Regions from separate parts of the Homo sapiens genome. Here region 2 is linked to region 1. The links come from fine-mapping of genetic effects on gene expression. Tissue or cell type: whole blood. Region 1 holds a variant in brackets; the other region holds the start of a gene. All regions are shown on one strand. Distances are between the middles of the regions.

Region 1 (7,623 bases):
CCCGGTGGGGACTGTCTGGGGAAGTCCTGTCATTCCCCGGGTCTGCGTTGGCATCACTGCTCTGACAGTCTCTTTCAGGAGTTACGTGTTGGAGGCCAGTGACGACTGCAGATCTAAAGCCACATTTTAAAATCCACTGTCTGTGAGGCAGTGGTCTGACTCCTCTTCTCTTTTTCAATTGGTTCTGATTTTAGTTAGGAAAGGAAATGGTTGTTTGTAGACCTACTAAAGTTCCAATAGCTGATTATAAAACAAGATTCTATGACATGCAAGAGTATATTGGAGTCAGAAAAATTAAATAGAATTTATTTTCCTGAGAAGAAACAAACTGAAAAAAGAAAAACCAAACCTCTTTATGTTTATTTGTTTGTACCGATATACGACATCAGAAAGGCAGCCGTATAAAAGAGAATCAGGCTGGAGGGAGCTTAAGCCTCCACTAAATGGGGATTGATTGACCAGAGAAGAACTGGAACTATTAAAAGGCCTGAAAGAAGAAAAGAATTATGAATTTTGCTCCTCTCTCCTTCCAAAAAAAAGTAAATGCACATGTTTGAGAGGGAAGCATGGCCATAGATATTGTGATGCCATGGGGAAATCGATTTCAGGCTTTAAATAAGGATCCATCACTGTGAGAGGCCATGAAGCTGTGCCCAAAAAAACTTCCTGGTGAACCAGAGGAGGAAGTGTTCTCTATGGGTAGGAGAGAGCTTCATTTCAGAGAAAAGAAGGAAGGACTAAGAGAGTTAGAGGCCGGAGGGAAAGAAGGGACAAGTAAAGGGAGTGGAAAATGGGTTGACCAAAGACAGGCAGAGCCATTCATACGCAGATCTCAGATGAAGCACTATTTTCATTTGGACTAAGAAAAAAAAATGGTGACTTCTTAACTCTTATAAACTGAGCACTACTCATTGAAAACCCTGGTATCAGTGTGCAAGAACTCGGTAGGGACTTTAGAATGACCATGTCTTTAGCTAAATAACAAGTGACTGAAATTCAGTCCCTTCCACAGCTGCTTTATCTGGCAAACATGTCTTCTCCTCCACTACCAGCCCCCCGGATAAAATACACCTGGCCAACTCCTGCTCATTCAAAACTCCATTGAAATGGCTTCTCCTTCAGAAGGCTTTCCTCATCCCTTTCAATTCCCATTCCCCTCACCAACCTTACTTGTCTCCTCTCAGATTCTGACTGGCTGGCCCAGGGTTTAAGAACTTCAACTCTACAGTCAAAACAATCTCTGCAATTTGCTGTCTGCGTGATCTTGGGCAAGTTATTTAATCTCTCCTTAACCTTAGTTTCTTCATGGATAATAGCTGGCAAATGATAGTATATATTCCATAGGGTTGTTGTGAGCACTAAATAAAATAATGTACATGGAGTGCTTGACACTGTGCCTGGACACTGCCTGACAGTGCCTGGACTCAGTTAAAGGTGGTCATAATTACTGGGCCAGTCTTTCCCCTTCCCTACATGGCATTTACCACATTCCCTTTCCACTGTCTATCTGCCTATCTATCTGAAGATCTGTTTGCATGGGGACATTGAATTGGAAGTTTAATTCCTAGTGCCTGGTACATCATGAGGCTCCATAAATGTTTGTTGCATGAATTCGGAGAGTAAGCCTCCCCATTCTCTACCATAAATGATACTGATGTCTGTGGTTGTATTTTAGAAAGGACACATTAGGCAAGAATCTGCCCAAGTCAAGCGATACCATTTTCTATTCTTTAAAAATATCTGAAAAAGGAGATTCTACAAACTCCTTTAGTAACATTCTACAGTCAACACTTTCTCTAAGTCAAACATATGCCTCCATTTTAAAATGAAAGACTAACTCCTAATTTTTTATATCAGTTGAAAACAAAAACATCTGCTTTAATTCCCTGTATTCTCTCATACATGTAAACATTCATATTGGCTGTTTATCATTCTCTCCTTATTAAAACAAACCTATTTCTTTAACCTTTTCAAATAGTCTTTTCATGCCTTTTAATAATTGTCCTTCTGAAAAATACTGTGTCATAACGCATAAAAACAGTGAGACAATTTTTGCAGTCTCAGAAGTGGTTCATTTAGGCTGGAGGCGGTGGCTCACTCCTGTAATCCCAGCACTTTGGGAGGCCAAGGGCAGATCACCTGAGGTCAGGAGTTCGAGACCAGCCTGGCCAACATGGTGAAACCCTGTCTCTACAAAAATACAAACATTAGCCGGGCGTGGTGGTGGGCGCCTGTAATCCCAGCTACGTGGGAGGTTGAGGCGGGAGAATCGCTTGAACCTGGGAGGCGGAGGTTGCAGTGAGCCAAGATGGTGCCACTGCACTCCAGCCTGGGCAACAGAGTGAGACTCCATCTCAATAAATAAATAAATAAATAAATAAACAGTTAAATGGGAGGAGTCAGATTATGAAAGTATATGAAAATCCCAAATTCCACATAATTTTCTCTGTAAGCAGAAGCAGCCCCTTCTTCCCTTTGTCATGAGCCTCTCCACTGATTCCTTGGAAACTAATAACAACCTTGCCTAAGATGGTTACCTCGTAAAGGAACTAATGTTCTAGAAATAGAAATATGTAAGAGCTTATTCCTTTCCATGCTTATGGCATATGAAATATAATATTTTACTGAATAGGCCACATACTGTCTCACAGATTTTCCTTCAGCTTAAGTAGCCATACCTACTGTCATGTAGCACCCTTAACTTTTCCACGGTTGGCTGAAGTAAGAATTGGTGTCCTGGCTAGAGGAAACCTATAACAGTGGTTCTTAATATTTAATGGGCTGTGACTTACTTGAGGATCTGATGAAAGTAAATCGTTCTCTTTTTTAAAGAAAGCACATTTTCACATACACACCCACAATTTAAGAGAAATCATGATCTCCTAAACAAACTTAAACCCTCGGGTAAAACTTCTCTAAATCAAGATGCTCTGATGAAAATTATAGTTTTTGATTCTGCATGCTAACAAAAGGCACTAGATCACCTTGAGAACTATAAGGAGTTGCCCTTTTGGGTAAGTTATCTTTGTGTCATGGAAGAGAGTAGCCATTCTCTAAAGGGCGTGTGCAAGATCCATGGGAACTGAGAGGGTAGCATCCATTAGCATGTGAGTGCGTAGATGTACATCAGGAAATGTACATGGTCTAATCAGAACTTTCATGTTTTGAGGATTTAAAAGAAGAAGCTTCCTGATGATCAAGATAAAGATTGTGAAATAACGAAAATCCAGAAAGTACTCAAAACCTAGCTTGTGACTTGGAAGAGGCTTTGCTCCAATGAGAAGGGAGAATGACCATGGCAATGGACATTGTTCCAGTGCCTATGGCCATAGCCAGAGGAAAGAACAAAGCTCACCATCCAGCCTGAGTCTGTGTGTCAGGCTAACAGATTCCTATGCCTCTGAGCCTTAGAACTTGAAAGGGCCTCATAGAAATACATCTAAATACAGCCAAATAGAAGGCCTGAAAGTGACATTGAGTCATCATATCTAGAACTCAAGAGAACTTCAGAGATTATGTAGCTCAAAACTATTTATGGGGGCAGAAACTGAGTCAGGCTCAGAAAAGTGAAATGAATTACCCAAAGTCACACAGCAAGTTCATAGCAGAGAAGTAGAGAATCCCAAGGTTCCAGTGTTCAGCCCATCATGATACTCTAGTTACTGGAGTTCTTGTCTGGAACATATTTTCATAATAAAACACCCACTTTTAGGATATGTAATTAACTTGAAGAGCAGCTCCAAGTTTCACACTTAACTTTAATGTTATTCACATTTATTTCATCATTCTCCTTAGAAATC[C/T]AATTTTAACATTTTACCAGTATATGTAGAAGTTAACTTTACTTCCCTTAAATTTAGGAGTTCTACGTTATTGCTATTGCACCCCTGTGATTTCTCTTTCTCCTTTTTAATGACTAATTTTGATATCAAAATACAGATATACACCAGGGTTCAATAGTCAAGAATCTAATCTTGCCTCTTTCTATTGGTAGTTGTAATCACTATTACAATTGCTGAATATGAATATGCTGAATATGCTAAATTTTCCCTCTTTAGGAATAACCCCTCTTTTCTTAAAATACTCTCAATTTTCTTTCCTTACATACGTACCTGATGAAACTTTGCATAAACCTGATTGTTCACCTTTACTCACCACCATTCAAGTACTCCAGTCTCTTCTTTTCACTTCCACATCTCTGGCAGTTCATTTTTGAACTCTTTTGCTAGCTCCGAATCTTCTACTATATGTCTCAAACTTGGAATTTTCAAATAACAATCGTGGTTTATTTTCTCACTAAACAATTGCCCTCAGCAATCTCACTCATCCCAGGCTTTGAATAACAAACATCAACCTCTTCTGAACTATTTATTAAACTGTCTACTTGACATCTCTCCTTAGTATTTGTTTTGTTTTGTTTTGAGACAGAGTCTTGCTTTGTCACCCAGGCTGGAGTGCCATTATCCTGCCTCAGCCTTCCGAGTAGCTGGGACTACAGGCATGCGCCACCATGCTGGACTGATTGTTTTATTTTTCATAGAGAAAGGGTTTCACCATATTGGCCAGGCTGGCCTGACCTCAAGTGATCCACCTGCCTTGGCCTCCCAAAGTGCTGGGATTACAGGCGTGAGCCACCACATCCGGCTTCTTTTTACTATTTCACAGGCATCTCAATATAATGTATCTAAACTGAACTCTTGATCCTTCCCCTAAACTTTGCTTCTTCTTCAATCTTATCCTACGCAATTATTAAAGCCAGATACATAGCCATTGTAGTGGAGTGAATAGGGATATGTCCCCTAAAAGATATGTCCATATCCCTGAACCATGAATGTGACTTTATTTGGAAAAAGGGTCTTTTCAGATGTAATTAAATATCTCAAGATTATATCATCCCGGTTATTCAGGTAGATCCTAAATCCAATGACAAATGTTTTTATGGGAGAAAAGCTGAAAAAGATTTAAGTGAGAGAAGAGGAGAAGACTATGTGTAGACAGAGGAGAAAATTGGTGTTTTCCAGCCACAAGCCAACGAACGCCTGGAGCCACTAGAAGCTGAAAGAAGCAAGGAAGAATTCCCTCCTAGAGCCTTCAGTGGAAGTGTGGCCCTGTTGACACCTGGAGTTCGGATTTCTGCCCTTTGGAACTGTGAGAAGATAAATTTCAGTTGTTGTAAGCCACCCAGTTTGTGGTCATTTGTTACAGCAGCCTCAGGAGACTAATAGAGCTATCAACCTGAATACTCCCCTTTCTGTTATTCTTCTTATCCAATCCATCACCTCCCCAAGAATTCTGCTTCAAGAATGTCACTTGAATAATGTGACTTTTCTCAAATTTCTCTTCCAACAATTTATCACTTTAGTCCAAGCTGCCGTTATCTCTTGCCTTGCCAACTGCAATAGCCAACTCTTTATCTCCCTATTTCTACTCTTGGATCCTCCAATTTATTCTCCATATATGAATAATAACCAATTTTAAAATTGTAAAAATATAAAATACATTCTTTTAAAAATGTAAAATGGATTTTCTCAGTTCTCTGCTTAAAATTTTCAATCATTTCCTATTACAACTGGATTATATTCAGAAGTTTTAGCATGAACCCTGGGCTCATCCCCTGCCTATTTCTTCAACCTCTTGTACTTCCCACCCTTTTCTCTCTGCAGCTCATTCACTTCCTTCTGTTCGTTAAACCCACCTATTTTTGTCTGCCTCATAGCCTTCACCCATGCCATTTCAACCGCTTTCAATATTTTCTCCCTGTTCTTTGCCTGGTGGCAGTCATACTCATTGTTCAGTATAAATGTCATTTGCTAAGAGAGGCATTTCCCAGTCCACAGATATGTCCTGATGATGCCTGTTATGCTTTCACATAGAAACTATACATTTCTTTTACAGAACTTACAATTTCCAATTATACTGATATACTAGAGACTATCCATTTAATGCCCACCTCCTCCACTGAACTCCCCATGAAGGTAAGACTCATATCAGCTTTGTCAGCCACCATAGTTAGAACATTAGTCCTAACTTTTCCCCTAACTTCTAGTCCAGCATCCCCAGCATCCAATAGACAATTATATTAGTAGATTTTACCTTTTTCATAAATTCTGCAAATCTAAACCAAACTCACCAACACACAGACATGAACAATTTGGCCTCTTTTCTGGGCTCCAGTTTTGCCTGTAGTGTCACGATTCCAGAGTGACCCAGAAGAGAATTCCCATGTAATCTTTGGCCTTTGTTCTCCTTTGCTCCTCTGTATGAAAGCAGTCACCAAGTTCTTACAGCTATCCTTTGTCTTATCTCTATTTTTTCTCTTTTGACTGCCTTCCTTCTAGATCTGGTCCACTCAACCTTGGCACTATGTACACTTGGGGATGGATAATTCTTTGTCTTGAGAGGCTGTTTTGTGTTTTGTAGAACAGTTAGCATCATCCTTGCCTTTTACCTTCCAGATACCAGTAACATCCCCTGAGTTGTGAAAAAAAATGTCTACAAGTGTTGCTAAATGTCTCTTGGGAGGCTAAATCACCTCCATTTGGGAGCCATTGTTCTGGAACATAAGCTTATTTCCTCTGGTCCAAGAAAACTACAAGATTTATTGATTCACTTCCTCCGGGCATTTTCTTCTTTTTTTCAGTTACTCAACATATATTTTACTAGACATGTACCATGTGTCATAGAATATCATGAGAAGCATGACTGACAGTCCCTTCATCATACAGCATATATACTAGTTGAAGGGTTCACACAGGTGCCATAATACTCTTCCTAAAGCTTAATGTATTCACTATATCACATAACTGCTCAAAAATTTTCAGTAGTATTATATCACCATGAAACTTATTTTGCAATCCTCAGTTTGCCTTCCACAGACTGGCGTCAGTATCAAATTTCCAGACTAATGTCCCAAACTTTTCTCCAGCACGTGCTCCACCAACCAATGTGTTGATTCATTGTACCTGTAAACTTATTCATGCCCTTACCAACTCCATTCCAACTACCCTGCCCATCTTTCTTTACTCAAACCAGAACCTATCTCCAAAACTCTACCTGTAGGGATTTGTACATTTTGTTCATCTATTAGAATTTGCTGATCATGACATTGATTTGGCACATATCTTGCCTTGCCTTACACTATATGCTAGAAGTTCTTATACATATATCATCCCATTACACTATAAATGCAGCTAGGCCCTAAATATCTCTGTATCCCCTATAACACATATTGCTTTACAGGTAGGAGAAGTTCAGTGAAGATTGCTATATTATTTGTTTAAACATCACCCAACTATGTCAGCAGATACTCCATGTCAATGTCTCATATTTTAAGAGATTTAGCAGCATTTGTAGTTTTAGTTCCATAATACTGGACTAGGGAGAGGGAATGTGGGGGGAAAAGAAAACATTTCACTTGGAGCTAGGAAATATTTTGAGTCTGACATCACAATTAATATGAGGGAAAATGAAATTTTCCTGAAGTGTGAATTTGAAGTTCCACAGGCTCTTGCCAGGCAAGAGCAGGTCCTGGTCCACCTGTGATAGTTGCATTAGAGCCAAGCCCTGCATTAAAAGAGATAAGAGTAACACAGGAGCTAAATATGTAATTTAGAAAAAGCAGAGGCT
Region 2 (7,623 bases), 190 kb before region 1:
ACATGTCAAAAGTGAATCTTCTTGTTCAGCAAAGCAGTTACCCACATTCGAGGAGTTCAGTTTATAGGGTGTTGTTAACTCATTTGGATTTTATTTTTGTTTACTTGTGTTCCCTCATTTTGGAGCAGAGAATCTAATGATCCTCCGACATCAAACTTAAGTTGGGTTCTCAACATCACAAATAGTTTAGCTTCTGAAACTCCAGGCAGTTCTGATTGACCCAAAATTTGGTTGAGGCTGAATGTGGCCAATACTTCTTAAGTAAATCTTATAATATATATATATTATATATATTAATATATGTAAGGTTATATATTCCTTGGATAATATATATCCTTGGATAATAAGGCCATAGGATAGAGACTTTTATTTAGTGTTGTAGTAATTGTAGAGTCATGCAGACTGCATTCATAGCAATTTACTGTATGAAAACTGTCTTCTAGAAATGAGATTGCTACTATCGCATTTCCATCAGTTGGGCATTTGTTTGCTTTGCATTCCAGCAAAAATAAGGGATATGGGTGCTCCAGCCACATTTCTTTGGTTATGATCCACTTATGACCAATAACCTGTGCTTAACAAACAGCAGCTATCTCTGTCTGACTGTAGTATGGAATCCAACTAATTCACTGATTCCTAATGGCCCGTACTTCTGGTCTAGGATCCAACACCACCAGACTTCTGTGTTTTATTGTTGTTGATTGTTTGTTTAAAGGATCTAAAATCTGACCTGTTTTAATATTGTGACATGGTTCAAAGTTCCACTACTGCATATTTTCCTAGCTTTGGTCACCACTAACTTTTTGGTAAAAACAATACACAAGCCCCTGCTTTAAAAAATATATATAAAAAGAAAACAAAACAAAAAAAGCTTGCCCAAATGGGTTTGCAATTCTGTAAGGTCTGTCCTTGATCTGGTCTTATCATGTCATGGGAATGCAATCTATTAATGATAAACCTATTTTATCAAGGCATAGCTAACTTTTAAGCATTCTTGTTTGAAATTACTCCTCTACTTGCAATCACAGCTGCCTGGTGACAAATGTTTTACAGTTAAATATTAATGCCCCACATAAATATAGTTAAAAAAACAAGCTGAAGTTAAATAATATTAAATAATACATTTTATGTGGCTAAAAAAAGGTGCATTGATGATTCACCAATTGAAGCACTATACAAAAACACCTCCCATTCTCAGAAGAGCCAGCTGGAGAGAGGCATTGCTTGGTTAATTGTAGTTTTACTTATATCTTTCCACCACTTAGTAAATGAGAAACTTTTTTTTTTCAAATTCTTTCACAAAAGCTTTGGGAAGCCTAGCTTTGTTGACTATAAATATGGTACTTCACATTTCCAAATAGCTTCATAGTCAGCATTTCACAATATGCTATGCGGTCACTCAGTTTTTCACAGTTTTGAAAGTGAGAAAACTGACATAGAGGTTAGATGATTAGTTTTAGTTAATTGGGAATCCCAAATCTTATGTGCCAACTCAGGGATCTTAAAAAAAATTCAAGTGCAAATGTCAGAATATAACTATCCATTTGACCTTCATGAAGCTGATCATGTACTAAGGCAACATTTTCATTTCCCTGGCAATCTTGGCACCTTCAACATAGTTTAATTGTTTACAACCTTTAGTGATAAAATTAAATTGGTGTTCTTTGTGTATCCTTTACGTATTTGGTGAATTTTCATTTATCCTTTCAAAGTCTTTTTCGACTCCTTTCACTCTTCAAAGCCTTGTCTGTTCCTCCCTCTTTGTCAGTTGACTGTGTTTTCTCAGCGTCCATCTCTGTACCTAGCCAGCTGCCCTGATAAGGCTGTGAGTAAGCTGAAGGCAGACCCTATCTCTCATTCATCCTGGCCCAGTGCCCAGCACAAACTAAGCACTCAATCAATTTAAAGTTTGTTGAACTAACTAGCTAGCTAACTGACTAAATAAATTAAGATTCAGGTGGTATAGAGAAATAAAGGATAAATTGGTAACTTCTAACAATGAACACCGAGTATTTATCAGGGTGTGGCAATATCATAAAAGGTGTAAGAAAGACACGGAGGTACCTTGGGTTATACCTTTCACCAGGACTAACCTGAAGCACTAGCGTGACAACTGTTGTGATACTGGGGATGATCTGAATATTCTTCCTCTCAGATTAAAGTGGATATTTTCTAACACAACAACATTTATTGGTAAAATATGACATTTTCCATAAAAAATTTAAAAGATGCTTAAGAAAGTTCTCTACAGTTTAGGACACATTTTGAGTATGAATAGAGTTACTCAAAATATCCTATCAATATACAGTGGGCTTCCATATTTCTTTCCCCTTTAATTATATGCCACTTCCATTTGTGTTTCATCAGTGAAAAAGTAATTTGGAGGCCTTCTCATTCATTATCCCGCAGCTGGAGTTTTCATTCGTTTGTACTGGGGGGGACCCTCGCCTTAACTGCACACACCTCCCTTTCCTCTGGGTCCCATCCTTGCCATCTGCCAGGGGCAAAGTTGAAGCAGCCCCTCCACACTACTGCTTAACCAGGTCTGACATCCTCATCCAATTCTACTGTCAGCGGCATTCTGCTCAGAGATCACTTTTGTTTTACCCCAAGCACAGGCAGTGACTGAATAAAAGGCAATGAAAGAAAGAAGAGTCCTGCCCAGAACCGCAGGTACGAGTCACAACAGGGCCCCGAGAGCAGCCTGTGGTAAGAAGTGTGGCTTCCAGGTACCCGCCTCCACACTCAGCCCAGCCTTATGTATGCAAGGAAAATCACACCCCAGGAAAGACCGACATTCTTTCTCCTGTTGAAACTCCAAGCCCAAACTGTTATTCTAAAGGAAGCGCATTGCCTTTCAAGGCCTTCCAGTTCTTCCTACTGCTTGGGAACTGATGCGCGTTCCTCCTCCTGACGCCGGCCTGGGATAAGAGGAGAGTAGGGGGCAGGTGGCGGAGAATATGCCCATGTTTCAGAAAGCCGGTCCACCCGGTGTGCCCCGTCTCACCAGATGTGCAGACAGCTGAGGGTGGCAAAGAGAATTCCCGCAATGAAGGCCAGGGGAATGGCCAGGAACACCGTCAGGAACTTGTACATTACGTATTTGCTGATTTCAAAGAGGGCATGGCTGCAGATCCACACTTTGTCAAAGGAGTGCGTAGTCACCGGCTCTGCGATCACATCCTCGAAGCCCAGCTGAGGAGACAGGACGCAGGGACCCCGAACTGTCAGCCAACCTGACGCCCCGGGAACCGGGAGCGCTTTGGGCGGGGGAAGCAGGAGGGAAGGACGTGCCAGGGCGTCCGCCTCTTCTCTTAGGGTCACGGTGGGCGCACAGGAACCTGGCTAAGAATTCCTGGCTACGCGGGCGGCCTGGTGACGGGTGGGACCGGGGAAGGGTGCGGGTCTCAGACCCTGCGGGGCCGACCCGGTAGCAATGGTGGGACGGGTTAGGGCGGGGCTGAGGGGCGCCCGCACCTCCCGGCCTCAGCGGGGACTTGGGCCCGCCCGCCCCGGGCTTCACCTTGAGATGCGAGTTGAGCCGGTGGGGATCCCGGTCCTGGTCCGAGTCCGCGAACTTCTCGGGGTCGGCGTACTCGAGGCCGCTGTGGTGGCTGTAGGAGTCGTCGTCCATGAAGAGCTGTACGTCCGCCTTCTCCGTCTCCAGCCCCATCGCAGCCTTGGTGCGCGGCCGCTGCAGCCCGGCTGGCGCGGTGCGGCTCCCGGTCCGCGCGGCCTCCCCTTCCCGTAGCGCCCGGCCCCGCCCCCCCTCGCCTCGCCTAGCCCTGCGAGGCCCGGGCGGCGGCCGCTTCCCGCTGTGGGCTCCAGCTCCCAGCCCGGCCGTCCCGAGCCCCGCCCCGGCGCCCCGCCGCCCCTCCCCGCCCACCTCCCCCGCCGGGGCGCAGGGAACCGTCCCCACGAGTCACAGCCCGGGCCCTGCAGTGGGCGGCGACGCCGGCAGCTGGGACGAGGAGGGCCTCCTGGTCACCCTTCTGGGGGCCCGTACTGTCATGCCTCAGAGCTGGCAAGTCGTCCCAGGGAAGACAACGGCCTTCCTGGAGGGAGGGAACCTTGTGGTTAGGCGCATGGGGTGCGAAGCAGGTATGTGCTCACCTCCGGCTGTGTTTGCCTTGCGTGCTGCGGCTCATGGTGCTGGTATTGAGCCTCTGGGAACCTCAGCTGCCTCGTTGGCAAAATGGGGGCTGTGGCATCTGTTTCAGGGGTGTCCGTGAGAATTAAATGTTAATTTCACATAAAATTCTAACACACATGGCCCATGGCCCGTAACACACAGTGATAAACTTCCAATCAACGTTGTTGCTGCTGTCGTGAGAGGTAAGGAGCCACAATGTACCTGAGTGCTAGGTACCTGAGTGCTAGGTGACCTGCAAGTGCATGTGGAGTTGGGTAGGCGAACGCCCTGGCCCTAGAGTTTGTGCCTTCAGATCTGAGGTGTGAGGGGAGATCTGATTTTTTTTTTTTTTTTTTTTTTACTTCCTAAACTACACCGTGTGTGTGTGTGTGTGTGTGTTTGTGTGTGTGTGGCAGAGTTTCGCTCTTGTTGCCCAGGCTGGAGTGCAATGGCACGATCTCGGCTCATCGCAACCTCTGCCTCCCGGGTTCAAGCGATTCTCCTGCCTCAGCCTCCCGAGTAGCTGGGATTACAGGCATGCACCACCACGCCTGGCTAATTTTGTATTTTTAGCAGAGACGGGGTTTCCCCATGTTGGTCAGGCTGGTTTCGAACTCCCAACCTCAGGTGATCCGCCCGCCTCGGCCTCCCAAAGTGCTGGGATTGCAGGCGTGAGCCACCGCGCCCGACCTCCACCTTTTAATTTTCTTGTGAACCAGACTGTCTTGAAAGATTCAGGAACTTCTAAGATGCAGTCACATCTGTGATTATCTTGCAGGCAGCACGGAAACAGAACCCTAACACAAAGCCACATTGCAATGGATGAATTAGCCTGCTGACCACTCACGCAAAGGTTTTCAGAAGGGAGGAGTTTGCATGTTCATAAAGGGCTTTAGGGTCTGGTAGACATATACGTGTGTTTGGGGAGGAAGGGCACTTAGTGAAAATTTGCCAAAAGCAAAACAATGAGAACTAGGCTTGAGGTGCAGGTTGCTCAGAGCTCAAAGTAGGCATGTAGTAGGTATTGCTGGATACAGTGTATTTGGAGCTTGTTGAACATATCAAATCCCCTTATGTGAACTGGATTTGAAGAATTGCTTCTTCCGAAAGAAAAAAGATCATTTTTGAAACAGTAAAAATTACAGAAATAAAAAAGAACAGGAACTGAATGAGAAAAATGTTTGGGGGTGGGAGGCAAAGTTCAATATTTCTAATAATTAAAAAGTTTCCCTGCTGCTACCTCAGTATATGAAGGGCAGTGTTGTAACCCTATAGGGTGTTACAGAGTTGACTCTCATGGCTATGGAGCCCCTCCTCTCCCAGACATCACCCTGCTTACCCATTCCCTTCTTTTTTACGTATCTTTCTCATTTTTATTTATGTTCAGTCAATTCCAAAGTGATGACTTAGACATTCTACTCATTGCATTTTCTCTGCTTCTCCACCTTGTCCATTCTCCTGATGAGAATTGGAACTCTTCTAGAATTGTTGCCCAACAACTGTTCATTAAAGTGAATAGAAGACATGAATCCTTATGGGAATCCATAATATCAACTGTGAGGAACAGAAAAAAAAAGGAGATAATTTACAGCCAAATACCATTTTATAATTATAATTCAAAATTATAATCCCAGATTTCAAGGTCTCACCCAAAGAAGAAAGTCACTGCCCTAGTACAAGAGTGGGCTTATGTAGTGGGTAAAAATCTGACATTAGCACTTCTTACCTTATAATTCTTGGTCCTCATTACATTTACATTTTCCATGGGATTATTAGGACATTTGAGAGTTATCACAAATAATTGATTTGTTTTCAGGAAGTGGCCAAGAGGACTCTTTAGACAACAGCTTCATTCGTAAAATGATAGGTATTTAAGAAAGGTGTCTCTAAATCCCATCTAAATGAGACCCATCTAGATTTGTTGTATGGAGCACAGAACTTGAAAGGAGAGGATTCATTTATTCATCCATTTGTAATTTTTTATTGAACAATCTTCTCTCCCTTGGGTCAGATCTGGTGAGGTTCTTATTTTGATGAAATTCTTATACATTTCAACATTTTAATACATAAGATTTTTTGAAGGAAGCTATAAAAATGATTTTGCTTATCCTATTGGCCAGTATTTAGATAAGGTTAGTGATATGGCTTGGATTTGTGTCCCTGCCCGAATCTCATGTGGAACTGTAATCCCCAGTGTTGGAGGTGGGGCTTGGTGGGAGGTAGAGATTAGATCATGGGGGCAGAGTTCTTAGGAATGGTTTAGCAACCACCCCCACTGCCACCCCTGCCCCCCGACCCCGCAGTTGGTACTGTATAGTGAGTGAGTTCTCATTAGATCTCGTCCTTCAAAAGTGTGTGGCACCTCCCCCTCACCTTTCTTTGGCTCCTTCTGTGGCCACGTGAGGTGATACTCCCTGTTTACCTTCCGCCATGATTGTAAGTTTCCTGAGGCCTCCCCAGAAGCTGAGCAGATGCCATCATAATGCTTCCTGTACAGCTAGTGGAACTGTGAGCCAACTAAACCTCTTTTCTTTATAGATTACCCAGTCTCAGGTATTTCTTTATAGCAGTGTGAGAACGGACTAATATAGTTAGCTACTGTTTTTCTCAAGAGGCTTAAACCAGAGTGATTCCCACAGCAATGGCATCTGTCCTTATGAACATAAAGGAAAATTTACCAGGAAAGGGAAAAGAAAGGGGGTGGGTGGGTGCTAAATGGCTGAACACATTCTAGTGTCTTCTGGATCACAGAATTACTCTCCAATAAGCACCTCCTACAGAGTTTACGTGCCCTGTAATCCAGAGAAATTAAAAAAATTATAATAAATTCCTACTGGTGCATTTATCTTCTGACTTATTATGTATCATAGCTTCTGATAAGAGGGCTGTTTTTTAGATGGTGTATTAATATATTTTAGAAATAACAGTCTGATAATAGATTAGAATTTGTGAGAAGGATAGTTTATAACCATTTTGTTACTCACTTCTTTCAGCACAGTGTCAATGGAAGAAGGTTATTTTTCTGGAGCATTGAAAATTGTATGGCAATGCTCTTATGAATAAAAATATCTAATTTTTTCCCTTCAGCTTTTTTTCCTTTTCAAATCACAAATGTGTCATATTTTTTTCCCTGTATAACGCACATGCAATTTTAGTCAGGGTCTGTTTTTCAAACTGCCTTTGAGCAAATTGGTATTAACGAAAATGCAGTAATAAATTCTTGATCTCACCATATGTTTTAATAATATTCAGAGTGTTCAGATTAGACCAGAGTTTCTCAATCTCAACCCTGTTGGCATTTTGGGCCAGATCATTTTTCCTTGAGAGACTGTCCAGTGCATTGTAGGATGTTTAGCAACATCCTTGGCATCTATCCACTAGATACCTATAACACTCCCAGTCATGACAACCAAAATGTTTCCAAATGTTGCCAAATGTCCTCTGGGGGGCAAAATCACCTTTCTCCTTCTTTCCCAGGCTGAGAACCACTG

What was found. PIP is the estimated chance that this variant, and not a neighbour inherited with it, causes the effect.
Region 2: CAV2 starts here. The variant in region 1 is fine-mapped to the expression of CAV2 in whole blood (INTERVAL, PIP 0.94).

What each region holds. Positions count from the first base shown.
Region 1 is chr7:116,307,870-116,315,492 of GRCh38, reverse strand. The region is part of intron 3 of LOC105375463 (a long non-coding RNA gene); the gene reads right to left. Among named protein-coding and RNA genes, the nearest start is that of TES, 100 kb to the right of the region's middle. The variant C/T (reference allele first, on the strand shown) is at 3,801.
Region 2 is chr7:116,495,832-116,503,454 of GRCh38, reverse strand. CAV2 (caveolin 2) reads right to left here and starts at 3,717. Exons shown (of 3, transcript NM_001233.5): 1 at 3,524-3,717; 2 at 3,008-3,195. The coding sequence starts at 3,673. It overlaps CAV2-DT (CAV2 divergent transcript), which reads left to right and starts at 3,939. Exons shown (of 3, transcript NR_188012.1): 1 at 3,939-4,101. RefSeq lists silencers at 1,666-1,960, 3,745-3,834 and enhancers at 4,015-4,154, 4,201-4,702.